Homo sapiens: one gene and its partners. The protein of the gene in region 2 purifies or fractionates together with the protein of the main gene of each other region. This does not show direct contact. Each region holds a gene or a part of one and is shown on either strand. Other genes may lie near its edges. The genes, in order: ZMPSTE24, GDPD5, STX8 and ROBO1.

The links.
Region 1: the proteins of GDPD5 (region 2) and ZMPSTE24 purify together in Homo sapiens (co-immunoprecipitation; 3 studies listed by BioGRID and IntAct, with this or other methods). This does not show direct contact.
Region 3: the proteins of GDPD5 (region 2) and STX8 purify together in Homo sapiens (co-immunoprecipitation; 3 studies listed by BioGRID and IntAct, with this or other methods). This does not show direct contact.
Region 4: the proteins of GDPD5 (region 2) and ROBO1 purify together in Homo sapiens (co-immunoprecipitation; 3 studies listed by BioGRID and IntAct, with this or other methods). This does not show direct contact.

What each region holds. Positions count from the first base shown.
Region 1 is NC_000001.11:40,260,805-40,268,846, reverse strand, and holds part of ZMPSTE24 (CAAX prenyl protease 1 homolog), read right to left. Parts: intron 8,009-8,042; coding exon 7,862-8,008; intron 6,009-7,861; exon of another isoform or gene 5,885-6,008; coding exon of another isoform or gene 5,864-5,884; intron 1,062-5,863; coding exon 975-1,061; intron 429-974; coding exon 312-428; intron 1-311. UniProt on the Homo sapiens protein: Transmembrane metalloprotease whose catalytic activity is critical for processing lamin A/LMNA on the inner nuclear membrane and clearing clogged translocons on the endoplasmic reticulum.
Region 2 is NC_000011.10:75,445,323-75,453,364, forward strand, and holds part of GDPD5 (glycerophosphodiester phosphodiesterase domain-containing protein 5), read right to left. Parts: intron 7,649-8,042; coding exon of another isoform or gene 7,494-7,648; intron 7,010-7,493; exon of another isoform or gene 6,011-7,009; intron 5,912-6,010; exon of another isoform or gene 5,071-5,911; intron 4,662-5,070; coding exon 4,563-4,661; intron 4,289-4,562; coding exon 4,195-4,288; intron 3,801-4,194; coding exon 3,655-3,800; intron 3,328-3,654; exon of another isoform or gene 3,170-3,327; intron 1-3,169. UniProt on the Homo sapiens protein: Glycerophosphodiester phosphodiesterase that promotes neurite formation and drives spinal motor neuron differentiation.
Region 3 is NC_000017.11:9,565,301-9,573,342, forward strand, and holds part of STX8 (syntaxin-8), read right to left. Parts: intron 4,638-8,042; exon of another isoform or gene 4,256-4,637; coding exon of another isoform or gene 4,198-4,255; intron 3,171-4,197; coding exon 3,071-3,170; intron 1-3,070. UniProt on the Homo sapiens protein: Vesicle trafficking protein that functions in the early secretory pathway, possibly by mediating retrograde transport from cis-Golgi membranes to the ER.
Region 4 is NC_000003.12:78,665,559-78,673,600, forward strand, and holds part of ROBO1 (roundabout homolog 1 isoform a precursor), read right to left. Parts: intron 4,744-8,042; coding exon 4,538-4,743; intron 3,008-4,537; coding exon 2,926-3,007; intron 2,745-2,925; coding exon 2,576-2,744; intron 2,492-2,575; coding exon 2,325-2,491; intron 1-2,324. UniProt on the Homo sapiens protein: Receptor for SLIT1 and SLIT2 that mediates cellular responses to molecular guidance cues in cellular migration, including axonal navigation at the ventral midline of the neural tube and projection of axons to different regions during neuronal development.

The DNA of each region.
Region 1 (8,042 bases), on a different chromosome or scaffold from region 2:
CTCAGCCTCCCAAAGTGCTGGGATTACAGGCATGAGCCACTGGGCCTGGCCTTAAGTATTTTTTTTTTAAAATCAGTGTTGACCAGGTTGGCCTCGAACATGTAGCCTTGCCTCCCCGAGTGCCAGGGCAACTGGCCAGAGCCACCGCGGCCCCCAAGACTTTCAGCTATGATCTTTACCATATCTGTAGTTCCCTTTTTTCTCAATTCATACTCTGAAATAGTAAATTATGTTTAAATTATAAACAGTACAGGACAAAAGCACAGAAGTTTTTCACATTTAAAAGAGAACATTTGTATTCTTTATTATACCTGTTGATTGAAGCCATGTTTTTCTTCTATCACAAAAGTATTATAAAGACTCCATGGCAAACCAGTCAATGCACTGAAAAGTGTAGCCAACAGCAGAAACACCAGGGACTGAGTGATCTAAACAAAAGAAAAAACAAAAATCCAGTTTTTATGAACTACTGGCAAACAAATCAACAAGTATTTGCTGAGCACTTACTTACTACATCCCAAGCAATATGCTTGATTCTATGGATAACATAAGGTCTGAAATATCATCCCTGCCTTCAAAAAAGTTTACTTTTGAGAGAAGTAAATGAGAAACAAAACAATTCCTTTTTTATTACACAGGCACTATATGAAAGGTACCTTAAATCATACAGACAAATCCCTAAGATAAAGAGCCTGGATTCTTGGCTTACCACATGGAAGAAAGTCACCTGATAACTAAAAATACTCACACTGGACTATTACGTGATTGAGAAATAAACCATTGCAAATAAGCCTGTGATATTCTGGGATTTGTTATTGTAACTAATGTTATGCCAATACAGCATGGGTAACCAAGGACTATGCAAACAGAGAGGCAAATCTTAACATTGGCAGAAGCCAAAAAATTAACTTTAGTGGAAAGCCTGCCAAGCTAAAAGAAATACCATGACAAATACATGCTAATGAATCACATACCTCATATTCTGGTCCAAAGCCAGCATAACCACAGAACCGTCCAGAAAGTCTCCAGAGATAAGGTATTCCTCCAAAGAGAAGAATAAGCTATAAAACAAAGCATACTTTGATCACAGTTGAACAGTACTAGAAACTATCATATGAGAAAGCATGGTATAAAGAAAGAAAGGACAAAATAATCATCTCTATTAAAAAAACAAAAGAGGCCAGTACGGTGGCTCATGCCTGTAATCCCAGCACTTTGGGAGACTGAGACAGAAGCATCGCTTGAGGCCAGGAATTCAAGACCAGCCTGGGCAACAAGGTGAGTTGAGACCCCATCTCTACAAAAAATTTAAAAATTAGCTGGGCCTGATAGTGCGTACCTGTAGACCCAGCTACTTGGGGGACTGAGGTGACAGGATTGCCTGAGCCTGGGAAGTCAAGGCTCCAGTGAGCCGTGATTGTGACACTGCACTCCAGCAAGGCAATAAACTGAGACCCTGTCTCAAATAAAATAAAATAAAATAAAATAAAATAAAATAAAATAAAATAAAATAACAAAATAAAATATTTTTTTAAAAAATAGACCTATTTCACATTTAGCATAAATTATGCATTTAGATGAGTACTAACCATTGAGATACTAAATTTAGGTGGTTAATATAACATTTTTGTCTGTACACTATATATGGATGAATTGTATGGTATATGAATTGTATGGTACATGAATTATCTCAATAAAGCTGTTCTAAAACAAAACAAAAAAAAACCTTTTGTCAAAAGACCACAACAAAATCACAAACTAAACTTAGAAAGGTTAAACAGCTGGGTATGGTAGCATATGCCTGTAATCCCAGCACTTTGGGAGGCCAAGGCAGGCAGATTGCTTGTGCTCAGGAATTCGAGACCAGCCTGGACAACATGGTGAAACCTGTCCCTACAAGAAATACAAAAATGAGCCAATTATGGTGGCATGATTCTGTGGTCCCAGCTACTCGGGGGAGCTGAGGTAGAAGGATTGCTTGAGCCTGGGATGTCGAGGCTGCAGTGGGCCATGATCGTGCCTGCACTCCAGCCTGGGTGACAGAATGAGACCCTGTCTCAAAAAAAAAAAAAAAAAAAAAAAAAACTTGTTCGAAATCCAACAGCTAATGAGTGATAGAAATGGAATTTGAACCACATTAATATGGCTCCATAATTGTCTTTTCTGTGAAAGAAAATAGTCCTTTTCCATCAGAACAAAGCACAGAAGTGGAGAGTCATGTCCACTTACTAAACTGGGGAACAGAATGGGATTATCTGTGTCTTTGCTGGGTCAGGAAGAGGTGAGGTAGGGGCCCGGCTTTCACAGGAGAAGGCTCTTCCTCAGCACCACCCTTTGTCTTGGTCTTGGGCAGATAAAGTGAACACAGACATTCACTAAATAACCAGGACATTAGGAGCTAGGAAGCAGCTCAAAATTTGAGAAGAATGCATGTTTAAGAATTCTACCGCCCAAAACACATACAACTTTGTGGAACTCATTTGTCAAGAGGAATCAATTTATTTTTTCTCTCTGTAGGACAGCAGCTTAGGAACACAATGATCAATCACATTCCTTGACTAGAAGCACAATATTCCCACTGGTTCAGACATAGTTCCTCATGGTTTGAGGGGTTTTGGTACTATCATATTTCATGGGTACCCTTCCAATCTAATTCCCATTTTCATACATGTATCTACAAATAATATAGTGATTTATGTATGCTTTTAAAGAATGTATATAAATGACATCATATTATACTTATCAGTCTATGATTTGCTTTTTATATTCTAAATTTTCTTAGATCCATCCATGGTGGACTTCAACTTTATTTGGTATTATCAGGATATTTCCTAAAGTGTTTATAACAAATTACACTCCCATCAGCAGTACTCCAGTGTTTCTGTTTTCCCACAATCTCACCCACACTTTAAACTATCCATCTTTTAGACTGTTACCAGTACATTGGATTGGTTTAATATCATGGGTCTCAAATATGGTCTCTGGACAGCAGCAACAGCATCTGGGAATTTCTTAGAAATGCAAAGTCTCAGGCCCTACCCCAGATGTACCAAATCAGAAGCTGGAAGTGGGGCCCAGCAGTTTCTAGGTAAACCTGATGTACACTAAAGTTTGAAAATCATTGCTTTAATAAATTGTTTTCTTTTTTTAAGAGACAGAGTCTCACTCTGTCACTCAGGCTAGGGAGCAGTGTTATGATCATAGCTTACTGAATTTTTGAACTCCTGGGTTCAAAGGATCTTTCCATGTCAGCCCCCCAAGTAGCCAGGACTGTATGCACCACCATACTTGGCTAATTTTAATTTTTTGTACAGATGGGGTCTCACTATGTTGCCCAGGCTGGCCTCAAGCAGTCCTCTCACTGTGGCCTCCCAAAGTGCTGGGATTACAGGCATGAGCTACTGCACTCAGCCCCAATAAATTGCTTTTCAAAAGGCTCCCCTAACACTACCTCCAGGTATTTCCACTTTACTACAACTAATTCAATCTTAGACATAAACCTTGTTTTCCCAAAAGACATGCTTTGGTACCACTGTCTGACATATGCTGTAGTTGTTGATCTAATTGACCTGGGATGGTATTTCTTTCAGCCAATTCCCAATACTAATAAATAATGTATAATTAAGGACTTATAATGCTTTTAGTAAAGGCCACAGCAACTATTATTAAAAGTCCAGTATTTAAATAAGCATCAAGGGTAGTTTTAATATGAATTCTGAATGATCTATAAATGCATTTGAAAACTGATACTGCAAACCTTTTGGGGACTGAAAAACAAAGCATGTTTAGTTTCTTTTGGGGACTGAAAAACAAAGCATGGTGAACTGTACAATGTCTCTATGTTGACAATTTCACTAAGCATGCTCCCAGGGTTGTTCTATGGCAAAATTAATGATCCCAGAAAAAATAATTCCAGCGCTTTGACATATATTATTTCACTACATTCTTTTTTTTTTTTTTTTTTTTTTTGAGACAGGATCTCACTCTGTCACCAGGCGGGGGTACAGCAGTGTGATCACAGCTCACTGCAGCCTCCATCTCCTGGGCTCCAGCAACCCTCCCACCTCAGCCTCCAAGTAGCTAGAACTGCAGGTGCACATCACCACACTCAGTTGATTTTTTAAAAATTTTTTTGCAAAGATGGGGTATCACTATGTTTCCCAGGCTGGTCTCAAACTCCTGGGCTCAAGTGATCCTCCCACCTGAGCCTCTCGAAGTGCTATGATTACAGGATTGAGTCATCATGCCTGGCTTCACTACTACAGTCTTGAAAAACAGGCAGGGAAAAGGGTATAATCATCTCTATTTAATAGATGAGGCAACTGAAACTCTTTAACTGAAAGGTTACTTTAACTGAGAGGTTGAAGTAACTTGTCCAAAGAAACCCAATGACTAAGTAATTCCTACGCATTGAGCTTCATTTACGCTATCTCACTCACTTAGTCCTTGCCACAAACCATACAAGGTATGGCTTAACATCCACACACTTCTTATTTTATTTTTATTTATTTTTGAGATGGAGTCTCACTCTGTCACCCAGGCTGGAGTGCAGTGTTGCAATCTCAGCTCACTGCAGCCTCCACCTCCCGGGTTCAAGCAATTCTTGTGTCTCAGCCTCCTGAGTAGCTGCGACTACAGGCATGTGCCAACACGCCAGGCTAATTTTTGTATTTTTAGTAGAGACAGGGTTTCGCCATGTTGGTCAGGCTGGTCTCAAACTTCTGACCTCAGGTAATCCGCCCCCACCTCGGCCTCTCAAAGTGCTGGGAATACAGGCGTGAGCCACCGTACCCAGCCCACTTCTCATTTTAAAGATGAGAAAACTTAGGCTCAAGAAGGTGAAACTGCTCACATAGAAACATGCAAAAATTAGAGAAGCAACAATTTAAACTTTTCGACCCTGACCTACTCTGCTCCCCAGCCATTCCATTTCTTCAGTGGGCCCTTTATTGATATCTGTGAGATATTAGAGAAAGTGTCTCAGAGAGGCTGGAATTTTCTGTCTGGGTGCAGTGTCATATTTATGTGAACAGTGGCAACCATAAATGGCCACACAATGACTCTATTTAGGTTCCCTCAGGTAGAAAGTACTACGGCAAAAAAAAAAAAAAAAAAAGTCGAAGCTAATCTTCTCACTTGATCTCTGTGACCAAAACATACAAACCTATTAATTCTAATCAACACAAAATAGAAATTAATGAACTTGTTTCCAAACAAAACAAGGTTTCAAAGTTACCCAAAATATTCTTCCTGCCAAGCATAAATGCAGCCAGAAAATCCCCAGAGATAAATTTAGCACATTCATGTTGCAGTCTTTAGAGTTTCAAGAATGGATTTTTCAATGTCATTTTAAAGACTCAGCAGAACAGAGTTTGAAACCCAGTTATCCTACTTATTAGCATGTCCCTTGGCAATTAAACATGCAAACCCTTTAATTTATCCAAGCCTTTGCTTCCTCATTCATAAGAAGGGAATAATAATGCCTATCCTTTCCACTTCACTGTTGTAAACATCAAACAATACATATAAAAACTATGTATGAAGTGAAAATCATGACGACTATTAACTATTACTGTTCCCAACCTTAGCCCATCAGTACTGCTTCTAGTTTGAGCCACAGTACATTACAAAGCTCTCACTTTATATATGTATTCTCCCTATTTCTGTCATCCCCTAGAACAAACAGCCATTCCTATGGTCACCAACCATAATTACCAAGCTACTGTCTATCTTTCCTGGCACTATTTACCAGGGACAACCAAGGAGATTGAAAATGCTTTTCCTATTATTTTACTATGGCCCTGTAGTGGGTAAAGTCAAAGGACTTCCAAGAAGCAAACATCAGAAAGAGAATAGTGTCTACCTCATCTAATTGCCTTGTCATTATTAAACAGAGAATTCAGACTTTTCAGAGATGAAGAAAATATGGGAGCTATTAATCAGTATAGAACAAGAACTCTTGAGTATTACTTCTTCAGGTAGTGTTGTTAAGTTGTTCAACAATTCTCTGGAACTGGTGAAACAGAAGGGGAAATGTCAGTTGACAAAACAGCAAAACTCAGCCGTCAGACATCAACTGCAGAAAGAAGAGGCAAATACACTTACCAAGCAATGGAGGGAAAACATGCAAAATATTAAGTCAAGTTTGGAAGCAACTAGCTTTTGGGGAGAATGATACATTTAAGATCTTGGATATGTTTAATGTATTTTTTAAAGTTACTATAATTCTTTTTTGAGCTCCCTTTAGTCTTTTTTGGACCAAGGCCATTATATAAATACATAAGTAAACTCTCTTTCATCTATTTAAAAAAAAAAAAAAAAGAATAGTGTCTAAATTAACCACTTCTACTTCCATCTGTCTCTGAAGGATGATTTCCTACTTGTGACATGTCCCTAACAGAAGCAATGCTCAGATAAATTAACTAAAGCCAAGTCTTTATTGAAAAGATTACTTAATAGCAATAGCTGTGTATCCCCAAAGCCAATGAGACTTTGTTTTCCAAATCATTTATTAATTTTTCTAAATACCAAAATTTAACTCTTCTAGAAGCATTGCCATTTTCCATCACCTTGAAGAAATAAGTGCAGTTTCTAATAATTTGGATCTAACCACACTAGTCTTATTATTCCATACTTGTTAAGAAAAATTTTGTGATGAGCTAGACAATTCTGTCATTTACCACAGCTACATAAAGCCAGTTTCTTTAACTCATGAAACAATGATGGTAGCTGATCATAATTCTTTTAAATTTAGGAATCTTTCTCTTAGTGGTACTAGTAGATCTAAAAGTTCTAGAGAAATGATGATGATGATGATCAGGATGATAAAAATAAAAGTGGCAGGGCACAGTGGCTCATGACTGTAATCCCAGTACTTTGGGAGGCCAAGGCAGGCAGATCACGAGGTCAAGAGATCGAGACCATCCTGGCTAACATGGTGAAACCCCGTCTCTACTAAAAATACAAAAAATTAGCCAGGTGTGGTGGCACGCGCCTGTAGTCCCAGCTACTCAGGAGCCTAAGGTAGGAGAATCGCTTGAACCCGGGAGGTGGAGATTGCAGTGAGCCAAGATCGTGCGACTGCACTCCAGCCTGGGCGACAGAGCAAGACACTGCTCAAAAACAAAAACAAAACAAAACAAAAAAAGCAACAAAAAAACCCCACATTATTTCATTCAATAAATAGGAACTATATGCTGATTACATGCCAGGCACTAGGTATAAAATGATGAACAAGACTTAACTATTTCTTTAAGGAACTACCAGTCTGCCAATTAAACAGTCAAATCAGGCCAGGTACAGTGTGGCTCATGCCTATAATCCCAGCACTCTGAGACGGTATGGTGGCATGCAACTGTAGTCCCAACTACTCGGGAGGCTGAGGTGGGAGGATCATTTGCGCCTAGGAAGCAGAGGTTGCAGTGAGCCAAGATCACGCCACTGTACTTCAGCCTGGGTGACAGAGCAAGACTGTGCCAGAAGAAAAAAAAAAAAATCCAGGCAAATTCAACATAATGAGATAAGTACTCTGACAGGAATAATGATAGAATGCTACCCTATCCACATTCGTCAGGCAGGGAGTTTCAAATGGTTGCTTAGAAGACATGACATCTCAGCTGGATCCTAATGGAAGAGGATCTTTTTCCTACCTGGCTTCAGGGTAATAGTTCCCATATTCTATAGTTTTCAACTGACTAAGCAGTTATGTTTCTGTCTTTTTTGCTCCACAGCCGTTACTATCAATAACAAAGGTTAAGAAAGCATTCTGGGACTTGTAAGTGTGGTACCCTCTTTTGTGTTACAAAAATATGAAAATGAAAACAACCAGACAGACTGTCTCTCCAAGAAGTAAATTACTCACAGTGCCTTCAGTCTCTGAATAGAGTCCTGACCAGAAGCTGAAAGTGCTTTTATCCAGTTGATAGAGTCGAGATTTCTCAAATGTTTCAGAATCCATGATCTGTCCTAACTCCGGTGGTACATGAGTTGTTGTTTTATATATCCTTCTCTGAAATATTTTAAAGAAAACACTTTAGTGAAAT
Region 2 (8,042 bases):
AGCCTTGACTCTGCCATTAACTATTGTCCTGACTTTGGGTATATTTCTCTGTGGGTCTCAGTTTCCCCATGTGCCCCTTAGAGATGTGTACTCATGAGGGTCTTTATGCTTAGGACAGTTGGGATTCAAGCCTCCCTAGTTGGGTCTCATCTGAGGACTGTCATACCCGTTGCTGCCACTGGGGGTCAGCACCAAACCAAGGATTGGGCGAAGACCAGGTCCATGAGGGATGGTCGGAGGGAAGGAGGGAGGGAGGACACCCCCGATCCCCCTGCCCTGCTCTGTCAGTGAAGAGGTGAGGTGGGAAGGATTCCCATGGCTGATCTCATTCATTCCCACTGAAGACAATCCTGTTCCCACCTTCTCTCCCTCTGGCCACGATGTTCCCCAGCCACTCCCCTCTTTTGTGACACAGCCTAGCACTGGGGAGCCAGGGAGTGGTGAGGGCTTTGGAACGGACTAAAAAGGTGCAATTTCACTTCCCAGACACAGAGCTGGGGCCTCAGTTTCTTTAGCTGTAAAATGGGCTAACATTATCAACCTCACAGGTGAGATAACAAAAGTCACAGACCCTAGCCCAGGACCTGGCACACAGCAGGGTCTCAGTAATGAGTTTCTTTCTTCTCCTGTCCCTGGCATACAGCACTCTTGGAGGACATGTTACCTGTCTCCCAGTCCAGTGGGTTGTGTGAGGCACTCCCAGGGGAAGCAGGACTACAAAGGCATGGAGAGAGAGGCAAGGACTCAGTGGAATCCCACCCATCTCTGAATATCCTGCGGCCAGGCCTTCCATCAGGGACCACTTGACAGGGGTCCACGCTCCCTGCTGCATGGGCTGGGGCTGCAGAAGGCAGAAGCTTGGAAGGGGTTGCGAAGACCCTCAGGGCAGAGGAAGTGTTTGGGAAGGGGAAAGTCTTTTTTGGAAGCTTTTAGACACAGTTAAGTTCTCTCTGGGTTAGGTGCTGACCTCCTGGAGAAAGAGATATGGAAACCTGGCCCTCCCTGGCCAGGCTCAGGACTCCAGGAAGGCCCCAGAAGCATACACGTTGCTGGGGTGAATTCTTAGTCCCCGTCTCAGAGCTCGCACCTGCCTCAGGCCAGTCCAAGTGGGGTTCTGTTGTCAGGAGGGTGTGCATAGGGGGGTGGTGGTTACTCAGGTGGGTGGGACACTATGGTTAAGAGACCCAGATTTATAAAACAGCAACTCAAAGTACTATTAAAAAAGAGTCTTAGCTTCAGAGTTAGTGCAATCAAATATTAAAGTACACGTACACACATGCACAGAGGGACAGGCCACATCTGCATAGGAACAACACATCCAGGGACACACAGACAGTCTCCAAGACAGAGATGTGCACTTGGGCTCACCACACACAGACATGTGGACCCAGAGTCAGAGCCCCCCAAGGCAATGCACAGGGACACACAGAGGGGACCCTTGCCAGCCCCTCAAAAACTACCACCAGGGCATGATCAGTCAGATGCAGAATGTGAAAAATCCCACAGGACAAATGACTCCATTTCTCAGGACAAATAAACAGCTTAAGGGAAAAAAGGGACGGGGAACTTTTTTTTTTTGAGACGGAATTTCACTCTTGTTGCCCAGGCTGGAGTGCAATGGCGCAATCTCGGCTCGCTGCAACCTCCGCCTCCCGGATTCAAGCAATTCTCCTGTCTCAGCCTCCCAAGTAGCTGGGATTACAGGCATGTACCACCACATCCAGCTAATGTTGTATTTTTAGTAGAGATGGGGTTTCTCCATGTTGATCAGGCTGGTCTCGAACTCCTGACCTCAGGTGATCTGCCTGCCTTGGCCTCCCAAAGTGCTGGGATTACAAGCATGAGCCACTGAGCCCAGCCGGGGGATTGTTACAAATCAAAAGGCACTCAGGAGACACGCCAACCAGATGCGTGCTGTGGACCACATTTGGATCCTGATTTTTAACAACTAAACTGTAAAAAGATATTTTCGAGACAATAAAAGGAAATTGAACATGGATTCCATTTTAGATAATATTAAGGAATCATTATCCTTAATATTGGCTGGGTGTAATAACAGCATTGTTGCTATGCATCTTTCTGAAGTCCTCATGTGTTACAGATACATCCTGAAGTGCCTATGGGTAAGACGATGCGATGCCTAAGATTTGCTTTACTACCCCAGAAAAAAAAGTAGGGAACAGATGAAGCAAGAATGGCCAAACGTAGATAAGTATGGGATTGGATTCATTACATCCTTCTTCATTATGTGAGTCATTATATGCTTTTCTCCACTTCTGCATATATTTGACCTTTTTCTACTAAAGAAAACCATCCTCGCTGGGGCCACCTTCCTGCTTCAGCATACCACTTATGTCCCCTGGCTGCTGGAGGGAGCCCAGGAGATGGTAATCTGAGTCATGGAGACAGGAGGGGCCATCGTTTTAAGCCCCTCAGAAGAGTTCCCCTGCCCCCACTGGGAAGGCTGGGCTCCAATTGGTCCTCACAATAACCAGCAGCATGGGCATCCATACCTTTGAGGCACAGAGGGGACTGGTGACCCCTCCAAGATGCACAGGCAGCATGTGGCCAAACTGGACACCAGATCCAGATCCCCACTGGCTGCCTCTGGGAGGGACTGGGGTCAGCACTGGAGTCTGGCTCAGGGGCTGGAGTCTTATCGAGAAAATAATACCCACCACATGCAGGGGGCCAGACTTCCAGAGTGAGTGGCAGCCCGGCAGACCCAGCACCTCCTTCCAAAGCAGTTATGTGAGACCCCCTTACTACCCTGAGGTCCCACAACAGCCTGGAACACCAGGAAGCCAAGCCCTCAGGAAGTGCTCACACACACCCCCACTTGGCAGGGTGGGGGTGTGTACTACCTCTGCTAAGAAGCCTGGGTTCAAGGCTTTCATGGAGCAGGAGACCCTGCTCCAGAGAGATGGCCCTGCCCAAGGTAACAGCAGTGTCTGCCTCTTACTTTCTGTGCACCATGTGCATATTTGGGCACTGCACACATGCTAACTCCTGCTCCTCATAGCCCCACAGCAGGTGCTCTCACTAGTCCCATGGTACAAGATGGGGGAACCAGGCAAAGAGATGGAAACTGTTGGGCCTCCCACAGCTGGTGAGGAGCTGTGCTGGGATGCTAACTCAGGCAACATGGCTCTGGAGCCTGCCCTCTCACCGAAGCTCTCCTGCAGGGCTATGGAGTGCACTGGTGGCAGAATGCGGCGCTGACTTTGATCCCTTCGTCTTTCTCCAACTCACGTCGGTTCAGCCGTACTCACTGTCACAGTGGGCTCTGAGCTGCCTCCCAGCTCTCCTGGAGGGTTCTCCTGATGCCTGGTGGCAGACCCCAGGCCCCACACTCAGCATCCATCTCCTGGGCCTTCCTAACTGGCACCTGGGTCTAGCCTGGGCCTAAAACCCTCCTGCATCTTTGCAGGGCACTTAGGACAAAACTGAAATCTTTTTAGCAAGATGCCTTCAGGACGCTTCAAGATGTGCTTCCATCCCAGCACTCCCGGCCTTTTTGCCAGTCCTTCCCATGTACCTCCCCTCAAAAAGCTACAAATGGTTGCTACCATTACATATATCCATTTCCCAAGAAGGTCCCCCCCATCGCACCCCACCCCAACGGGGCTGTTAGGACCCTGAGGTGGCACTCACCATGGGGGCCCCGCGGTGGCCAATGAGAGCAGGCTTGGGGCCGAGGTCTTTCTTCTCCATGATGCAGGGAGAGGAGATGGTGAGAGGGGCCAGGTAGAGGGCAAACACCACGGTGAAGAAGGTACAGAGAATGGTCACCTGGGAGGCTGCAGATAAGGGGCCGTGAGTGCTGCCTGGTGAGCCCTGGGCAGGTTGGGGTGCAATGCTGGACCCCTCTACCCCCGACCTGTCAGGATCCAGGTGCTCTAGGGGGAAGCCCTTATTCTTGCTGGGAAGATGAACCCCGCCTCTAACTCACACAGACACAGGTGCATACATGCAGAGAGAGAGACATGGAGGAGGAATACAGTGTGAGGCCGACTGAAGCTGTGACCCTCCGTGGACTCTGTGGGCCACTCTGAGCCAGAATCCCCCTCACTGAGTGCAGGGGCCCCACCCCATCCCCAGGCCACCCCCAGGGAAAGCCCAGGTCGGGGCAGCACCAGCTGGTCTTGGCACCTGCAGGGATTGGAGGGGCAGGCCCTTCACAGTTCTACTCACAGGTCCGCTCTGCGCGGGCGAACTGTCCTGCCACGATCCAGGAGAGCATGGTGACTGCTGCCACAGCCCCCACATGCAGGAATGGCGCTGTGCCCTGTTTGCAGGGAGAGGGAAGGGAGACCAGTAACGCCCAGCTCTGCCCAGACCCTGTGTCACCAGCCTCCTACTTCTACCTATGAGGCAGGCAACCCTGTCTCCATCTGCCAACTGGGGACACTGGGAGCCTCAGGACCCTGGTGTCCTCCCTAGTTCTGACCTGCTCTGTGACCCTGGGCGCCTCCCTGCCCTTCTTTGGGCCTTGGTCTGGAGAAAGGGAAGTGACAGAAAGGCTCTTGTTGTGAGGGTCCTGGGGGACCCTCCTCACTCACCTGCAGGGAGATCAGCAGCACCTCCCACTCGTCCTCCCACAGCTGGGCCACGGCCGACATGGCCACCACCGTGGAAGCCAGGATGACCACCAGCCCGATCTGGAGGGGGAAGAGTCACCGGACAGAGGCTCAGAGCGGGTGGGAGGGTTCCCAGTGTGTCTGAGAGAGGAGCCAGAGGGAGAGACAGAGAGGGCAGGAGAGGCCGATGGAGCAGGGCAGAGGGGAGGGAGGAAAGAGACAGGCATGGGCTGCCAGGAAACTAGAGGCCGGCAGATAGACACGGCAGGGAGAGACTGAGGCAGGAGGAGGCAGCAGGAGGCCGGCAGACCCAGCGAGGAAGGGACAGCGAGAAATGGAAGGGAGGATGGGGACAGGAGGAGGAGGGAACTGTGAGGAGGGAGGACATTCAGTAAGGGGGACCTCCCTGGGCCTGGCAGGTTAGTCACATCCAAGGTCCCGCCCAGCCTCCCTGCCACCTCAGCATGGCACAGCAGAGGAGGAAACCCACTTGTCCAGGCCATGCCCAGGCCTCAGGGGAAGGAGGCTGAGGAACTGGGTCTGCTGCAGGAGCCTGGAGTGCAGCCCAGCCTGGCACCCTGGGCTGGGCTCACAGTGGCACTTCAGGCGGGAGTGGGTGGTGAAACACATCGCCACCTGCCCCATCTCCACGGCCTGCCCTCTCCCGGACTCCCAGCATCTAGGTCCGCCGTGATGGGGGCCATCCTCCTTGCAGCCTCCAGAAGAAAGCAAAGCACAGCTCTCATGGAGGATGAGGTGGCACCTCTACGGGACAGAGATCTCTGGTGACAGGTAAGACCTGAAATCTTTAACCACGTGAAGCTCGGCAGAGGTTTTCGGCTCCTCGGCCCCCAGCCCCTCGCCCCTAGCCGTGGATCTCACTCCACCCACCCCCCTCCACACCCCCAGGCGTGCCTCCCCGAAGCCCAGGTTGTGGCTCTCCTCCAAAGCCTCCCGCAGATCCCAGTCTCTGGAAGGGTCAGTCAAAGCCGCCACCTCCGTCCCCCTAGTTTCTCCAGACTCGTCTCCCATCTCCCTCCAAAGGCCTGTCCTTCTCCCACAGCACTGCCGGCCGCCCTGCCTCCCTGGAGCCGTTCTAGCTGCTGGCAGGGCCTTCACCCCCTTTCTCCCGAGGCAACCTTTCCCAGAGGCAGCAGCGGCCAGGGCCCTCTGATGCCGAGCAGGGACAGTGGCATTTCTAGACGATGAGGGTGGGGCGGTGGCCAGCATCTCCGCTCCCTACCCAGGGACCTTCACTCGCCGGCGGGGAATGCTGAGTCTCGCCTGGGATGAAGTTTCCCTTTGGAGGCTTTTCATTCCAGCCCATCAGCCTGGAAACAAATGTTCCCCCAAGAGACCTGAGCGAGGCAGGTGAGGAGCTGGAAGGGCTGTGACATGGGGGCTCGGGGCGGGAAGAGGCATGGGCGTGCCTGGGCCTGTGGGGGCGCTTCGCGTGGTCCCCAGGTTGGTTCCGCGGAGGCACGAGCATCCTCATCTCACACACGGGAAGCGAGGTTCGGGGAGAGGAACAGCTGGCTGGGTCACGGAGCTTTGAAGGGGCAGAACCAGAAACGAACACCTTCTGCCCATCTCAGGGGGTAAGGGGGTGTGCGCTTTCTCGGACAGACAGCACGCTGGTGTCAGAGAGGCTGCGCAGTCTCTGGGAGGCCCAGCTGCGCCTCCGAACCCCTGAGAACCCCGCCCTCGGCACTCAGGCCCCTTCTCCCGGCTGCCCCCGGCGCGCAGCTCCCCCTTGTGGCCATCGTGGGAGGTGGCCCTGCACACAGTGAGTTAAGGATGGTTTCCAGGAGCATCTCATCACAATACCTATTAATGGAAACGACTTGCAATAAAACTGATTCCCCAAACCCTAATACAATTAAAAATGTTATTATCTCTGAGTTCCACAGTTGCTTTGGTGCTAATCAACACACTCAGCAGCATCACTGCATGTTCAGTGTCTGTGGGACTTCCCTACCTTGCATCATTAAGTTATAGCAATAGCACTGACACCCAAAAACGCAACCACCATCGCTCCTGAAATCTGACTGAGAAGGATGAATCCCACCCTAGAGGCCCAGAGACAGATCACCGTCCTCCTCTGAGAAAGTGGCCTTGGGTTCTCTGTCTTCATGGGACTGTGGCTTGTGATAGCCATGGTGGGTACAGGGGATACAACAGAGTCTTTCATTCATTCGATGAGTCTGGCCTAGGTGCCGGGACCCGAGAGGAGGTGGAACCCCGCCTTGCAGAGGTGCAACAGCTGGCCTCTTAGGGGTATCTGGCCTCTGGGTTTTGCAGTCCAAATGGCAGACAGCTGGCCCAGGGTTAAGAGCCTCACTTGAATCACGGTCTTCAGTCGAATCCTGGCTCTGCTACCTACTGGGGATCTTTCCACATCCTCTCCAGGGACCTTTCCAGAGCTGTGAAATAGGGATAGTGAGTACCTACCTGGAAGGGGGTTGGGGAAGATCAGTGAGGAAATGCAAGTGAAATGCTTAGTACAACGGCTGGCCAGAAGAAAATGCTTACTAAATCTCAGTGATATCATTTTAAAAAGTGAGCATGATATGGGAACAGGATTATTGTGAGGAGTGAAATGACTGTGAAATTCTGAGTGAAAGGTGCCTGACACATGTGGTCAGCACCCAATAAAGGATGGTTACTGCTGTTATGGTGAACGCAGTGCCTGGCACACACAGGAGGTGCTCAGTGAATGCGCCTTCCTTAAGCTGCTGCTGGAGGGACAGAGGCTGGACACCAGGAAAAACCATAAAGCTGGGGCCAGTGCATGGAGAGAAGTCTGAATTCACCAGGAGAGGTGATGAAGTAGACATAGCAGATGGCAGGTAGAGGCTGATGGAGCCTTGGTAGGAGGCAGAAGCCCCAGCCCCAGCCCAGCCAGTAACTTGCCTTGGGGCTGTGTGGTACCCAGTGCTCCTCTCTGGGGCTCAGGTTGGGTCGCTGACAGACGCCTCCTCTGTGCAGGTCCTGGGCTGGGGGCTGCTGCCACTGAGGCAGGGGAGTCAGGCGAGGACAGAAGAGCAGTGCAGTGTGCTCAGGGCAGCCTGGGGAGGTGTGAGCTGTGACCAAAACACCTCACAGAGGGCGGTGGGTGGGGCAGGAAGGGGGGCATCTCAGGGAAAGGGCCTCCTGTTTACTGTAAAGCTCCCAAGAACCCTTCAGCCTGCTCCCTCACCTCCTGGGTACCTCAATTTCTCCTGAACACTCACCTGGGAGAGATTTCTGGGAAACAGGAGATTTTGGCAGACTGGGGAGGAGGAGGAAGGTCCCCACATAAGCACCAGATCTACTCAGCACCCAGCCTGCTGTGAATGGCTCCCTCTCACCCTGTCCTGAGCATCTCTGTCCTCCCCTCCTCAGGACCCAGGGGAACCAGAGACTCTCAAACTTCATGATTAAAACATACTATAGGCCAGGCATGGTGGATCATGCCTGTAG
Region 3 (8,042 bases), on a different chromosome or scaffold from region 2:
ATAGACCAATGGAACAGAATAGAGAACTCAGTTGACCAGGCACAGTGGCTCACGCCTATAATCCCAGCACTTTGGGAGGCCGAGGCGGGCAGATCACTTGAGGTCAGGATTTCGAGACCAGCCTGGCCAACATGGCGAAACCCTCTCTCTAATAAAAATACAAAAATTAGCTGGGCATGGTGGCACACACCTGTAATCCCAGCTACTCGGGTAGCTGAGATGCAAGAATCACTTGAAGCCAGAAGGGAGAGGTTGCAGTGAGCTGAGATCATGTCACTGCACTCCAGCCTAGGTGAGAAGAAACACCGTCTCAAAAAAAAAAAAAAAAAAAAAATAGAGTACCCAGAAATAAGGCCACACGTACAACTATCCGAGCTTTGACAAAGCTGACAAAAACAAGCAATGGGGGAAGGATTCCCTATTCAATAAGTGGTGCTGGGATAACTGGCTACCACGTGCAGAAGATAGAAATTGAACTCCTTCCTTACACCACATGCAAAAATTAACTTCAGATGGATTAAAGACTTAACTGTAAAACCTAAATCTATAAAAACCCTGGAAGACAACCTAGGCAATACTATTCTGGACATAAGAACAGGCAAAGATTTCAGGACAAAGACATCAAAAGCAATTGCAACAAAAGCAAAAATTGACAAATAGGATCTAATCAACTAAAGAGCTTCTGCACAGAAAAGGAAACTATCCACAGAGTGAACAAACAACCTACACATTGTGAGAAAATATTTGCAAGCTATCCATCTGACAAAGATCTAATAGCCAGTATCTATAAGGAACTTAAGCAAATTTACAAGAAAAATCCACCCCATTAAAAAGCAGACAAAGGACACGAATAGACACTTTTCAAAGGAAGACAGGCATGCTGCCAAAAAAAACAGGAAAAAAAGCTCAACATCACTGATCATTAGAGAGGTGCAAATCGAAACCACAATGAGATACCATCTCACACCACTCAGCATGGTTATTACTAAAAAGTCAAAAAATAACAGATGCTCGGGAGGTTGCAGAGCAAAAGGAACACTTATACACTGTTAGTGGGAGTGTAAATCAGTTCAGTCATTGTGGAAGACGGTGTGGCAATTCCTCAACGTACTAAAAACAGAAATACTATTTGATTCAGCAATCCCGTTATTGGGTATATCCCCGAAGGAATAGAAATCATTCTTCCATAAAGACACATGCATGTGGCCAGGTGGGGTGGCTCACACCTGTAATCTCAGCACTTCGGGAGGCCGAGGTGGGTGGATCACCTGAGGTCAGGTGTTCGAGACAAGCCTGGCCAACATGGCGAAACCCCATCTCTACTAAAAATACAAAAATTAGCCAGGCATGGTGGCAGGCACTTGTAATCCCAGCTACTCTGGAGGCTGGGGCAGGAGAATGGCTTGAACCTGGGAGGCAGAGGATGCAGTGAGCCGAGATTGCACCACTGCACTCCAGCCTGGGCAACAAGAGCAAAACTCCGTCTCGAAAAAAAAAGAGAAAAAAAGAGACACATGCATGTGTATGTTCACTGCAGCACTATTCACAATAACAAAAGACATAGAATCAACCTGATGCCCACCAATGGTAGACCAGACAGAGAAAATGTGGTACATATACACTATGGAATATTATGCCGCCATAAAAAAGATCGAGATCATGTCCTTTGCAGGAACATGAATGGAGCTGAAGGCCATTATCCTTAGCAAACTAATGCAGGAACAGAAAACCAAATACCGCATGTTCTCACATTCTGTAGGTTGTTTGTTCACTCTGTTGATATAAGAGAGAGCTAACTGGTGAGAACATATGGATACATAGGGGGACATGACACACACTGGGGCCTAGCAGAGGGAGGAAGCTGGAAGGAGGAAGAGGATTAGGAAAAATAGTAAGTGCTAGGCTTCATACCTGGGTGACAAAATAACGTGTACAACAAATCCCCATAACACAAGCTTACCTATACAACAAACCCACATATGTACCCCTGAACTTGAAAGTTAAAAAATAATTCTAATAACTTTGGAACATAATAACCTCAGCATTCTTAGTAGATTAGTCTACACTTAAAAAGACTCAAATTTTGAACTCAGTGTTTGTCGTGGTACCTTATAGTAATTTTGAAACCATTTTCTGTAAACTGTAAAATAGACCAAATGAGTAAAAACATACTGATGCTTTTGGAAACTAGGATTCTCAGTGTGAGAGAAAGAAAATACAAATTTGGAATGTGGAAAATAAGGAAGAAAGGTGTGGTGTTAGATTTGAATCAGAGGCTTCTATTTTCAATCATAGTCACAAGTATAAACTTGTGATTTCACAAAAATCTATTTCTTAGCCAAATCCCACCACTGTTTTTATACAGCCCAAAACTAAAGATGGTTTTTACATTTTTTTCTTTTTTGAGACAGGGTCTCACTCTGTTGCCCAGGCGGGAGTGCAGTGGCACGATCTTAGCTCACTGCAGCCTCCACCTCCCAGGTTCAAGCAATTCTCCTGCCTCAGCCTCCTGAGTAGCTGGACTACAGGTGTGTGCCACCACGCCTGGCTAGGTTTTATATTTTTAGTAGAGATGGGGTTTCCCCATGTTGCCCAGGCTGGTCTCGAATTCTTGACCTCAAGCAATCTGCCCGCCTCAGCCTCCCAAAGTGCTGGGATTACAGGTGTGAGCCACTATGCCTGGCCTGTTTTTACATTTTTAATGTAAAATGTAAAAACTATAACTATTCTTGTGGTGAGAATGGAAACTCAAAGACTTGAAGACATTATCTCTTGGCCTGCAAAGACTAAAAGATTTATTATCTGTAGGAAGTTTACTAACCCCTGAACTAGACTATAAAATTGTTAGAAATATTTAAAGTAAAACAGGAGAACTTAAATGTGTTATGCCTCATTTAGTCTCAATGATTACATCACTACTAACTGGTTGGGTGTTATGTCAATTCAACATATGTAAGCAGATAGATCATCATACACACATGTGCACAGACAGCCTCAAAGAAAGATAGGAGGGTTTTCAGGCCTCAAAACTCAAACAAATCATTGGGTACTAATTCCTTCATGGTATTACCTTTGGTGCCTTTTCACCTTTTCTTTCATATTGATTTCGTTGTTGAATTTTCTCAGCAATTTCTTGGGCAATTTGACAAGTAGAATCGTATGTGGAGAACCTGCACCAAAGTCGTAAAAAGAGAAAATGTTTAAGGTTCTTTTTTTTTGAGACGGAGTCTCGCTCTGTCGCCCAGGCTGGAGTGCAGTGGCACGATCTCAGCTCACTGCAAGCTCTGCCTCCTGGGTTCGCACCATTCTCCTGCCTCAGCCTCCCCAGTAGCTGGGACTACAGGCGCCCGCTATCATGCCTGGCTAATTTTTTGTATTTTTAGTAGAGATGAGGTTTCACCGTGTTAGCCAAGATGGTCTCGATCTCCTGACCTCGTGATCCGCCCCCTCGGCCTCCCAAAGTGCTGGGATTACAGGCGTGAGCCCCTGCACCTGGCCTTAAGGTTCTTTAAAAGAAATTTTTGCATTGTCTAAGTTTGACATTTTCATTCTAGCCAAAGAATTCAAACAGAGGGGAAGAATAATAACATGACCAGTAAAAGCAACATGGACTGAGCGTTATTTACCATGTGCCAGGCACTATTTTGAAGGCTTCGTTAGTAATAACTCACTTAATCAAAACAGGAACGCTATGAAGTGGGTACCATTACCATCTCCAACTCACACATGAGAAAAGGAGGCACAAAGAGTTAGAGTGACTTGCCCAAGTGGTTCTGCCTGCTGCAAACCAAGGCCGTCTGGCCCCAGAGCCGGGGCTCTTAACAACTGTGCTGTTCTGCCAATGAGAAAGCATGTGGGGGGTCTCCGCTGCACTGGGCACTGTTCTGGGCACTGGAGAAGACGGCAGTAAACAGAATGAACACAGTCCCTCTTTCAAGGAGCTCATATTTTAAGGAAAGAAAGTCATAAAACAATTAAATACATAGTATGTCAGGTGTTGATAGGTGCTAAGAAGAAAAACGCAGCAGGATAAAGGGACAGAGAGTGATAAGGAGCTGCTACTTAGGATCAGGTGACACCGAGGCAAGGTGAAGAAGCTGGGCTTGCAGATGCCTGGGGGCGGCTCTAGGGTGCAGGAACAGCAAGTATTGTCTAGCCTAAAACCAAATGCTCCGGGGACAAAGGCCACACACCCACCTGACATCTGAGCTTGCCAGAATTCTCTCAAAACATTTAATAAGCTTCTAGTTGTCATTCAGCAGCGTTGGAGGCTTTGAAGGGTTCACGGTGAACTCCCAATAGCCCCTTATGTTTTGCTTCTCTCAGAGCATTTTTACTTTCTATCATATAGAAAATACTTAAGCAGACCGGATGCGGTGGCTCACGCTTGTAATCCCAGCACTTTGGGAGGCCGAGGCGGGCAGATCATGAGGTCAGAAGTTCGAGACCAGCCTGGCCAACATAGTGAAACCCCGTCTCAACTAAAAATACAAAAAATTAGCCAGGCATGGTGGCGGGTGCCTGTAATCCCAGCTACTTGGGAGGCTGAGGCAGGAGAATCGCTTGAACCCAGGAGGCGAAGGTTGCAGTGAGCTGAGATCACACCATTGCACTCCAGCCCGGCGACACTGTGAGACTCCATCTCAAAAAAACAAACGAACAAAAAAACGAAAATACTTAAGCATGCATACACATTTCATTTCTCCTATCAGACAGTCTGCTCCTAAAAAGCAGAGACTCTGTGGACTAACATGACCAGCATTATCTTCCAGGACCAGTCCATCACAAAATATCAGAAACTCCTGTTGCCCCTAATGTCCTAATTTTTGCTTGAGTAAACAATATATTTTTTAAAACCTTTCAATTCCCACATATCATTTGAACACTGAGGGAACTTGATAAGTGTTTTTTTTTAAATGAAGGAAAATGCGCCCATCAATTCCCTTAGGAATCTTACTAGAATAATTATAGCAATAGTAACAGCTGAGTACCTGACCTGAGCCAGGTCCTATACTAAGAGCTTTACACTGTAAACTTCATAAGGATCCTGAGAGAGGATCCTGAACCACTAACCACTATACTGTAAAGCAGCACCATTCATGTATATATCATATATATATCACACACATTCACATATATCATATATATCACTGATACATATATTCATATATATCACATACCTATCGTTTATATCATATATACTATATATTCGTATATGTCACATGTATATCATTCATATATATATATTCATGTATTTGTGTGTGTAGGGAAAAATAGCAGTGATACAAGAAAACACAGAATTAAGAAAACAGGAGGCTAATAAGGAAAATTGGGTCCTGGTCCAAACTTTGCCACATTTCACTTTTTTTTCCTCCATATTATCATGAAAAGAGGAGCCTAGGTCTGGCTCTGGGGTCCAGACCATACATATAAAAATCATCCACATATGGTAAGTTTTGCCTCCTGCCAAATGTGGGATCTAAGTGGTAAGTACGTCTGGAGTTCAGAGGTGGAAGAGATTACTGCTGACCAAGGCACTCAGATGGAGAGGGTCCATGAGGTTACATCTGGATGACCACGAAGTTAAAGCAGGTCTCTTATTCAGACAGGAGGGAGGAGCACATTCTAGACTTAGTGAAAGACAGGGCGAGCAAAGATGAATGGAAGGAAACGTGCCCGGCACATTTGGCTGCGTGGTGGCCCTGGAAGCCTGTTAAGTATAAAATGGTAGAGATGAGTAGAAGCTAGTTTCTGCAGAGCCTTGAACACCAGTCTAACAAGGTTAGACTTAAAGGAGAATTTCAGAGCCATAGAGAACACTTTTACACACAGAGAGTGGCCCTAAAGAGGTTATGAGAAATGCACACAGCTAGCACAAACTCCCAGGTGTCCTGACTCCAGTCCTTGTGTTGTTATTTTAGCCCTAAAGAGCAATAGTTCTGAAACAAGTTGGAATCACTGGGGAATCTTTAAAAAAATAACAATGCCTGGTCCCAACCTCAGCATTCTGACTCAACTGGTATGGGGTTTGTCCTGGGCGTGCGTGGGGAGCTTTAAAAGCTCTCCAAGTGATTCCAATCTGCGGTAAAGTCCGGGCGGGAACCCTTGGCCTGGGGCAATAGACAACCTCATTACACTATCAAGCACACAGGTGCCTGAAGTACTAGTTTAGAAAAAGTAATTGGGTCGGGGGGTGGCTGAGGCAGGAGAATCGCTGGAACCCGGGAGGCAGAGGTTGCAGTTTGCCGAGATTGTGCCATCGCACTCCAGCCTGGGGGACAAGAGCAAGACTTTGTCTCAAAAAAAAAAAAAAAAAAAAGTAATCTGGGCCGGGCATAGGCGTAGTGGCTCACACCTGTAATCCCAGCACTTTGGGAGGCCAAGACGGGTGATCACCTGAGGTCAGGAGTTCAAGACCAGCCTGGCCAACATGGCAAAACCCCATCTCTACTAAAAATACAAAAATTAGCCGGGCATGGTGGCGGGTGCTTGTAATCCCAGCTACTCGGGAGGCTGAGATAGGAGAATCACTTGAACTCAGGAGGCAGAGGTTGCAGTGAGCCAAGATCATGCCACTGCACTCCAGCCTGGGCGACGGAGCAAGACTCCATCTCAAAATTAAAAAAAAAAAAGGTGTGGAGGGTAGAGATGAAACAAGAATGGCAGAATATTGATAATCACAGAAATTGGGTGGTGAGTATGAAAGGGGCCCATTATACTATTCTAGTTTGTGTATCTTTTACCTTCCAAAATAAAGTTTTTAAAAAGCAATTCAACACAAAGAAGACCATGCTACCAACATAAAAAGTCCAATCAGGATATAAAACTATTAAGGTTTAACTGTAATTTTTCTGGAAATGGTACATCATCAACAAATTAGTTACCCTGGAGGTAAAGCTAATTAACATTAGCAAAGAGCCAGTTCAGAGACAGTGATCATGGGCTCCTTCTGTTAAACAGCGAGCTTACCACTTGCTTTGATAGGCCATTAAAATAGTAACTGCTATATTCCATTGCTAGACACTGAGGGAGGTGCCAATGACCTATGATTTTAGCAACACAAAGGTAAAGCTGTAGTTGAATCTGTTTTTATAGGTTGTTTTTGTTTGTTTGTTTTGTTTTGTTTTGACATGGAGTCTCGCTCTGTCGCCCAGGCTGAAGTGCAGTGGCGCAATCTCGGCTCACTGCAACCTCCACCTCCTGGGTTCAAGTGATTCTCCTGCCTCAGCCTCCTGAGTAGCTGGGATTACAGGTACACACCAACATGCCCAGCTAATTTTTGCGTTTTTAGTAGAGACGGGGTTTCACCATGTTGGTCAGGCTGGTCTCGAACTCCTGACCTTATGATCCGCCTGCCTCAGCCTCCCAAAGTGCTAGGATTACAGGTGTGAGCCACCACACCTGGCCTTTTATAGGTTTTTCAAGTCCCTTCCCATACTCCTTTCTACCCCCCTAATCAGCGACCCATTTTGTGCTTTGGGAGCACAGCTGAGTGTCTCACTGTTTCACTCTCAATAGTCCAATGAGAAAGCCACTTCATCAAACTAATGAAGTATAACAGAAAAAGTCTCAATGCTTTATCAACATTAACTGCGGAAGAAGCTTGGGGTCCAGTGATAGCTTCCACCAATCTAAATAGATAACTGGGGGCCTGTCCCTTATCTTTGACCTTTATTTCCTACTTGATTTGTAAACTGAGGGATTTAGGTTCCAGAAGGTGGAGGGCAACTTAGGAATATGTATTGTAAACCAAAATAAAATTCTAAGCCCACCCCCAACACCCCCCCCCACCCCCGCAACCATCTGAACGGACCCCTACTCTAAGGCAAGGGCATTCCAAAGTTAACCTGAAACACTGGTTCAGGCCATGATGGGAAGAGGGGATCAGACATGCCTCATTATATATCCTCTCCTCCTTTTTGGAATTCAGGAAAAGCCAACCAGCATTAACGTCAATACAGACCTTAAGTCTGATAAGAAACACTTACAATGTATTCTCTCTAAAGCCTGCTACCCAGAGGCTTCATTTGCATAATAAAATC
Region 4 (8,042 bases), on a different chromosome or scaffold from region 2:
TTTTACGACATCCACAAATTTTATGAACTTCCTTTACTTTTAGTCCTGACACTAAAAGAAATACAAGTCCAATAACAGATTTTATGGGATAAAACAGAAAACAAATCTGAATCTTATATACTTATATATTGATTGGTTAATGTATTCTTTGTCCAATCCCGAGGAATGGGTATGTTTAGCCCCATTTTATAGGTGAGGAAACTCAGAAGGGCTGACTAGCTTGCTCAAGGTCACACAGCTAGTGGATTGAGGAGCTGAAATTTAAAAAAAAAAAGTCTTTGATTTCACAACTGTATGCCTGTTTCTCTATATTTCCAGTATTCCAGTTAACAAGGATTCATTATACTTAGAGTGATGTGGTTTGGCTGTGTCCTCACCCAAATCTCATCTTGAACTGTAGTTCTCCTAATCCCCATGTGTCACGGGAGGGTCTCGGTAGGAGGTAACTGAATCATGGAGTAGTTACCCCGTGCTGCTGTTCTCGTGATAGTGAGTGAGTTCTCAGGAGACCCGATGGTTTTATAAGGGGCTTTGCTCACTTTTGCTCGGCACCTCTTGCTGCCACCATGTGAACCGGGACGTGTTTCTTTCCCCTTCTGCCATGATTGTAAGTTTTCTGAGGCTTCCCCAGCCATGCTGAACTGTGAGTCAATTAAACCTCTTTCCTTTATAAACTGCCCAGTCTCGGGGAAGTTCTTTATTAGCAGCGTGAGAAGAGACTAATACATTGTTCCACTAGCTATGCATATGCAAAGGCAAATTGACAGAAATGTTAAAAAGACTAAATGAATGTTCAGACAGAATGCTAACTTACTGCTCACTTACAAATGAGGTTACATATTCCAGAATCATGCATGTGAGTACAGGACAAAACGGTGTTAAGCTCTAGTCATCAAAACCTTTCAGTTAGAGTCTACTGGCTGGAGACCACTGTACTGGGGACAAAAGTTTAAATTCATTTTATAGCTATCATTGGGTCTACATTCTTTACAAATGTGTATCTAATATCAAAAACCTCAGACTGCCTTAAGGCAGGCTGCAAGTATAGTAAAGCTCCTGGAGAGGTGATTCATAATAGCAAATATGAGCTATGGGTGTGTTACATTCACACAAGAGACAAACGTGGGCATGTTCTACAACTTGGTGTGCTTTTTCTGCAAATTCTGAAACAAAAAGTGCTTCCAAAAAGACTGTTTCTGTACATACTTGAAGTAACAAAACAGCAACATGGCTGGCAGACCCCTCTCCCAAACCAGCAGCAAAGGACTTTAAGTCTCAGTCATCTTGTGTATAACTTGTTTCTATTAAAATAACCAAGTCTATTTTTTTTTCTTTTTTCCTTTGTTCCCTTAAGATAGAAACACTATCCCTCTGTATGTTGAGAAAATAATTTTATAGTTCGAATCACTCCCCTCTAGAATTACCTTTCTTTACTAATATAAAAACAAGCACATTTTATTTACAATGACGTGATTTTTTTCCAAAAATAAAAGGTATCCAGATATCTCTCATATTTATGTGATCTCAAGAGAGTATTATTTGATTAGGGTTGTAATCTAAAAATTCATCCAGAAGGTTGTGAGTACTGAACTTATAAATAAATAAAATTTGGTTAATTTTAAATACAATTATAATATGATTAAGATTGTACACCTACATGTTACCATATTTAAAATTCAGGAAATTGAATAGAATACACAAATATTCACATATTTTTAAAATTTATGGGTACTAACAGGTGTATATATTTATGGGTACATGAGGTATTTTGATATAGGCATACAGGGCATAATAATCACATCAGGGTAAATGGGGTATCTATCACCTCAATCATTTATCCTTTGTTTGTGTTACAAACATTCCAGTTATACTTTATTTAAAAATGTACAATAAATTATTATTGACTGCAGTCACCTTGTTGCTATCTAATACTAGATCTTATTCATTAGATCTAACTATTCTTTTTTTTGTACCCGTTAACCATCCCCACCCTCCCCACAGCCACCCTACTACCCTTCCCAGCCTCTGGTAACCATCATTCTACTTTCCATCTCCTCACGTAATATTTTTGTCTTGATATATTTGTAATTTTATGAGAAACAGTTCTCTTTGTTAATCCATCTTATGTTGGTATGCTTAGTCCAGAAAATAATAAAGTTTGTAGACATTGTGTTTGTATATTAAAAATTAATTAAGCAACTTGGGCAACTTGAACAACACACTGTAAATGTACAATTCTAGCATGTAGCACAAGTGATTTGTCAGTGCAATTATAACATCTAAGGATAAGTAGGTGTCACAGGTTTAAGTAAATCAATATTTACCTTGTGTTTTCACTGGATCTGATATTTGGCTTGGATCACTAATTCCATATGCATTAGCTGCCCTCACAAGGAAAAGGTAAATTGCATTAGGTTTGAGTCCTTTAATGGCAGATGTTTCTGTTTTCACATTCTCTGCTACGGTCTGCCAGCTGCTACCAGATGCATGGCTAAGGATAGACACACAGGTTAGAACATGCGTATTTAATGGAGAATCAAAAAAGAACAACTAGGAAGCATCTCCTTCACTCTACCTGAAGGCTTCTATAATATAAGATGTTGGAGTTGCTCCTGAATTCAAATTTGGTTGCCACGATAATGTGACTGTATTTCTGCTGACATCTGTCACTTCAGGTTTTGATGGGGCACTAGGGATTAAATTTGGGTCAGTAGGTCTTGGAGGCTGAACTGGAACTCCAAATTCTAAAAAGCAGGAAAAAGGCCAAAATAAAAGATGTTTACACATACACAGATAAGCGGATAAATGCAGATAACATATTCATACACCTACTCAGGGAAGAGGACATTTACTTCATCAATATCCCAGTAAGTAAACAACTGCATTTTAAGCTTCACTTTAAGGGAAACACACCATTTACTTTACCTTGAACTTCAATGTAAGCACTCCATGTTGCTTCACCACTGGGGGTTGATGCAATGCAGGTGTACCGACCAGTATCACCCAGCTGAGAAGGCAGACAAAAAATAAATATTTGGAAAAATCAAGAACTCACTGGGCTGGAAAAGCAATTACAGGTTTGTATATGATCCATGAATATGGATAACTGCATTAAAATTCACTAACCAGAAACTTCCCCTTAGTTGAATATATTTTTATTGAATGTGAAGGAAAATATTACATCAATATAGAAAAAAAGATTTTATATGATTGTTCTAATGGTATAATAAGAAATATTTAATTGCATTAGCATATATTATCATCAGTCTCAGGGACAATAATTCCTAAGGTAAGGCATACAATTCTTCAAATTTAGAGCGTTAATATTTATGGCTAAGATATATCTTTATGTTTAATAAGTTATATAATAAGGCTGATAAAGTTTAACCAATGCCTATTCTTGCTATTTCATATTTTACTTATATATTTAACTATATGGATATATGAGATCAACAGAAAAAGGATAGGCATCATAGAATTTTTTTCTTAAACTACTGACTTTTCCGGGTTTTAAAACTTGTAACTTAAGGCAGTTTAAGAAGTACAAAGCCAAACTCAAGCTGGAACGAACACTCTCGCTCCCTTTTAAAAACTGAATGTCAGAAGGCAAACATAGGTTACATGTTCAACTTTGAAATCAGCAGCAGGATAATAAACCCATCTACTTCTGCTCAAGCTAATAACTATCTTCAAGTAACATTTGATAAAGAAAGAATGTTGTCATCTTGCCCTGGCAATTGCAGGAACCAAGTCACAACAGTCACAAAGCAGCACAACATATTAACTGTTGTGGCACTTAAAGTGAACTGTGATGCTGATCCAATACTCCAAAGGAACCACCCACACTAGGAGATAAAGCAACTGAAATTCATGTTTATTGCTGTCAGGACTATTCTTTCATATGCCTCAGGAGCTCGTCTGATCTTGACATAAAAAAAGAAGAAAAATCAAAACAATAAAGTCCTGAAAGAGCAGGCATGGGATATGATGCCCTGTGAAAGTAAATCCTTAAATGGTTCCTACAGACCTGTGGGCTTTCCATCATTGAGCATTCTGATTTGAATTGTACACTCGGTGTGTACATTGCTTTATGGCTTTTGTTTGCATGTATAGTTTTGCCATTGCAAAATGCTGAAACAAACACTTACAATAGAAGAACTATCTAAATATATTGCACATAAAATGATACAGGTAAATATCTTAAAAGATGCTTTATGGAAGGACTGCTTCGTACCACTACTTTGAAGATATTTATTCTCTCACAAACCCTCATTTACTTTCCTCGGTAGGTTCTTAGAAATCCTTTCTTCTCCTCCATACAACCTTAAATTACCTGCCATGGACTAAATTATGAGTTAAATCATCTCAAACATATACAATGAAATATCTGAAAAAAATAAAACATCAAATTAAAAATATATTACTACTCTTCATTTAACACTTCATTAATTGCAAAGTTAGAAATTTCAATGCCAGTTGTTGGAGGCAGAAACAAAGTGAAACAAAACAAGAAACGCAAGGTGCCATTCCAAGTTACCTTAGCATATCGGATCTGCAGTACTCCATTCTCCAACTGTTTGATTCGAGAGTCTTGGGTTGAAACGAGGACTCCATCCTTTCTCCACAGAATGGTGGGCACTGGACTGCCTGTGGCCACACAGCTGAGGACGAAAGTGCCATCCACGGCTACAGTCTGATTCACAGGACCTTGTCGAATAACTGGGGGAGGCCGATCTGCAATCACTGCCAGAAGAAACAACAGGAAATAGATTTCTGCAACTGGAAGCAATTTTCTAATCATCCAAGCAACAGCAGTTGTTCTAGGCTTTGAAACAAACTAAAGATAATTAAACAAGTAATTAAAGTAGCAGACATGCATTATTCAAAATGCATTTATATGATGCACTGATTCAGAATACTAAAATGAGACACAATGTGCTACTTTCAAATGACCAGCCACTCACTGAGCTGGCTGCATCGTCAAGAGGCCTATTTAAAGAGTTCGGGAATTAGGATTGTGGATGGTGAAGTAGATACAGAGACGTGATCATGGAATACTGTACTTTTTAAACTCAAAAACATGAAAAAACACAACATAACAAAAAGACCATTCCTCTCAAGGAAACATATGAGATAAATTTTAATAAATGAAGCAAAGCCAAATTGACATTTCATAACTTGTACAACAGAAAAAAAGAAACAAGGTACCATACCAGCATGTTTAACAATTTTGGATCCAAAAAAGTGCATTGGATTTCGTAATTTAATAAATCAGTGTGATTGAGTTCCCTGTGTCTTTTTATCTTGTAATTCTTTCTATTACAATATACATGGGAGAAAATTACCCAACTGTAATGAATTCAAAGAAATTGGAAAATTGCCCAAATACATTGTTGTTTGGCTGATCCAAAGAGACAAGTCAAAATGATGTTCTAACTTGGCAAACACCATACTTCTCTATTGGGATTAATGGGATTGGGAATGTGCCTCTGCTAACTCCGTTACCTTAGATAATAGTTATAACATACTACGGAAAATAACAACGAGAGGCAATTTTATTATGTGTAAATACAATTAACCCTATGATTACATGAAAAAAATCTAAAATCTAAAAACTTTATCTGACATGAAGTCTTTTTTAGGGGAAAACATAGAACAACTGTGTTGGAACTAGAATAAATCCTACATTGAAGAGGTGTTCCCATCCCCTGACTTAGGCAATTTATATGAAACTCTATAGTTTTTTTTTAATGACTTAAAAACCAAATTTCAGAAATTTTCTTTAAATATTCAACTTGAAAATTCTGGATGTTAATGAAAAATTTTTAAAAGACACAAATGTACAAAGAAAGATTCTAAGTTGCCTGGTTAAAGAAAAGTGGTTGTCAGAGTAACTAAATTTTGGAAGCAATAATTTTCAAAGCTGGATCTGTCATGTTCCAAGCTTTATGCACCAAAGATTTTCACAAGCTGGAGTCACACTTCAATTTGCTCCTCATTTGTCATGCAATAAATATTAGTTTTGTGCATGCAAACTAAAAAAAAAAAAAGAAAAGATAAACAGGAAAGCAATGGAGTGAAATCAGCAGCTGTGCATTTCCACTCTACTCTTCCAATTCTCTTCTTTGTCTTGGTTACCAGGGTGAAATTTGCAATATCAAGGGGTGAATTAGAAGGCTAGAGTTTGAAACTTGGCAGAAGGAATATTCTTTATAACTGATTATAATTAAGTCCAGTAGAAGAATGGTTTAAATTTGGTAGTCTTATCATATTTAGAAACAATCCAATATCTGGGAATATATTCAATGTTCTCTATCTTTATGGTTCTTTGATATTTGTATTTTATTTAGTGTCATCCACACCTCCCCATTCCATCCCAAACCAGTTATTGATGCCATTTTTGTGGTATAATTTACAATGTATACTTAACAAAAATAAAGCAATAAAAGAAAAAGATCAGCTCTAGCATCTGCCATATGTCTTTGGGCAAGTTCCTTAAATTCTCTAAGCCTCAGTTTTGTATTGTTTTTAAATCCATCAACTAAGCATAATAATATTTTTTTCTAAATAGCTCAGGCAGGGTATTGTTATGCATATTTAAATGGAACAGATAAGGGAGTGCTTGGCTAATTGCAAAAGGCTAGACATATTATGTACTGTAGTATCACTAGTGTCCTCTTTGGTAAAAACAACAACAACAACAAAAAAAACTATTATGTAAATCAGAGATGAAAGATTTGGCCGGGCACTGGGGCTCACGCCTGTAATCCTGCACTTTGGGTGGCCAAGTAAGGTGGATTGCTTAAGCCTAAGAGTTCAAAACCCACCTGGGTAACATGGCAAAACCCCATCTCCACAAAAATAAAAATAAAAATAAAAATAAATTAGCCGGCCATGGTGGTGTGCACCTGTAGTCCCAGCAACTTGACAGACTGAGGTGGGAGGATCACATGAGCCCAGGAGGTTAGGTCTGCAGTGGTGGACTTTGATCAGGCCACCGCACTCCAGCCTGGGTGACAGAGTGAGACCCTGTCTCAAAAAAAAAAAAAAAAAAAAGAGAAATATTTAAGGGTTTATTAAAGCAATTTGATGTTTCCAGGTAGAGAAATGAAAGTTTTTGATGTCATGAAGTAGAATAAAATACTCGTAAAATGTTTACACTTACAGACACCAAAGAATGTACTGCATTTATGAGTCAAATCTTAATTTAGAAGGAGACAAACCTTATATTCAGGTCTAGGATCTTCTGTTGGAATTATTAGAATGAATTATCCAGAAATAAAATAGGAAGTGTAAGAATCAGAAATGTTTAACAAAGTGATTAAATGCACGGACTTTGGAGTCAGAAAATGTTAGCACCATACAACAGAAATGTTCCATATCTACAACAGAAATGTTCCATATCTACTCTCTCCAATACAGTAGCCAACAGCACCAAGTGACTACTGAACATGTAAGTGTAGCTAGAGTAATTGGGGAATTGGATATGCAATTGTATTTAATTTTAAGTAATTTAAATTCAAATTTAAATAGCCCCATATGGTAAGTAGCTACCTTATTGGAGGGTGCAAACATGTCAGTTCTGCTACTTATCATTGTAAGTTGGGTACACATCTTCACATTCACTGCCTCAGTTTCTTCACTGGTAAAATGAGATATGGTTAGATTTGAAATTGTTCATGTGTGAAAAGTTTCTAGTATAGTGCCTGGCCCTAGGTAAGCTTATCCTATAACTTGTTATTAGTCACTGTAGCTCATTATTGTCAGTATAAAAATAATAGTGGTGGAGGTAGTGATGGTATAAGCAGTGTAACAGGTATAACAGGTGCTGTAATATATATTACAGCAGGGTTACACCACCTGTTATAAATATATATATATATATTACAGCAAGGTTACACTACCTGTTATAAAAATATATATATAATATAAATATATAAAATATATAAAATAATATATAATATATATAAATATATATATATTACAGCTAGGTTACATATATTTTATATATATATATATATATATATATATATATATATATA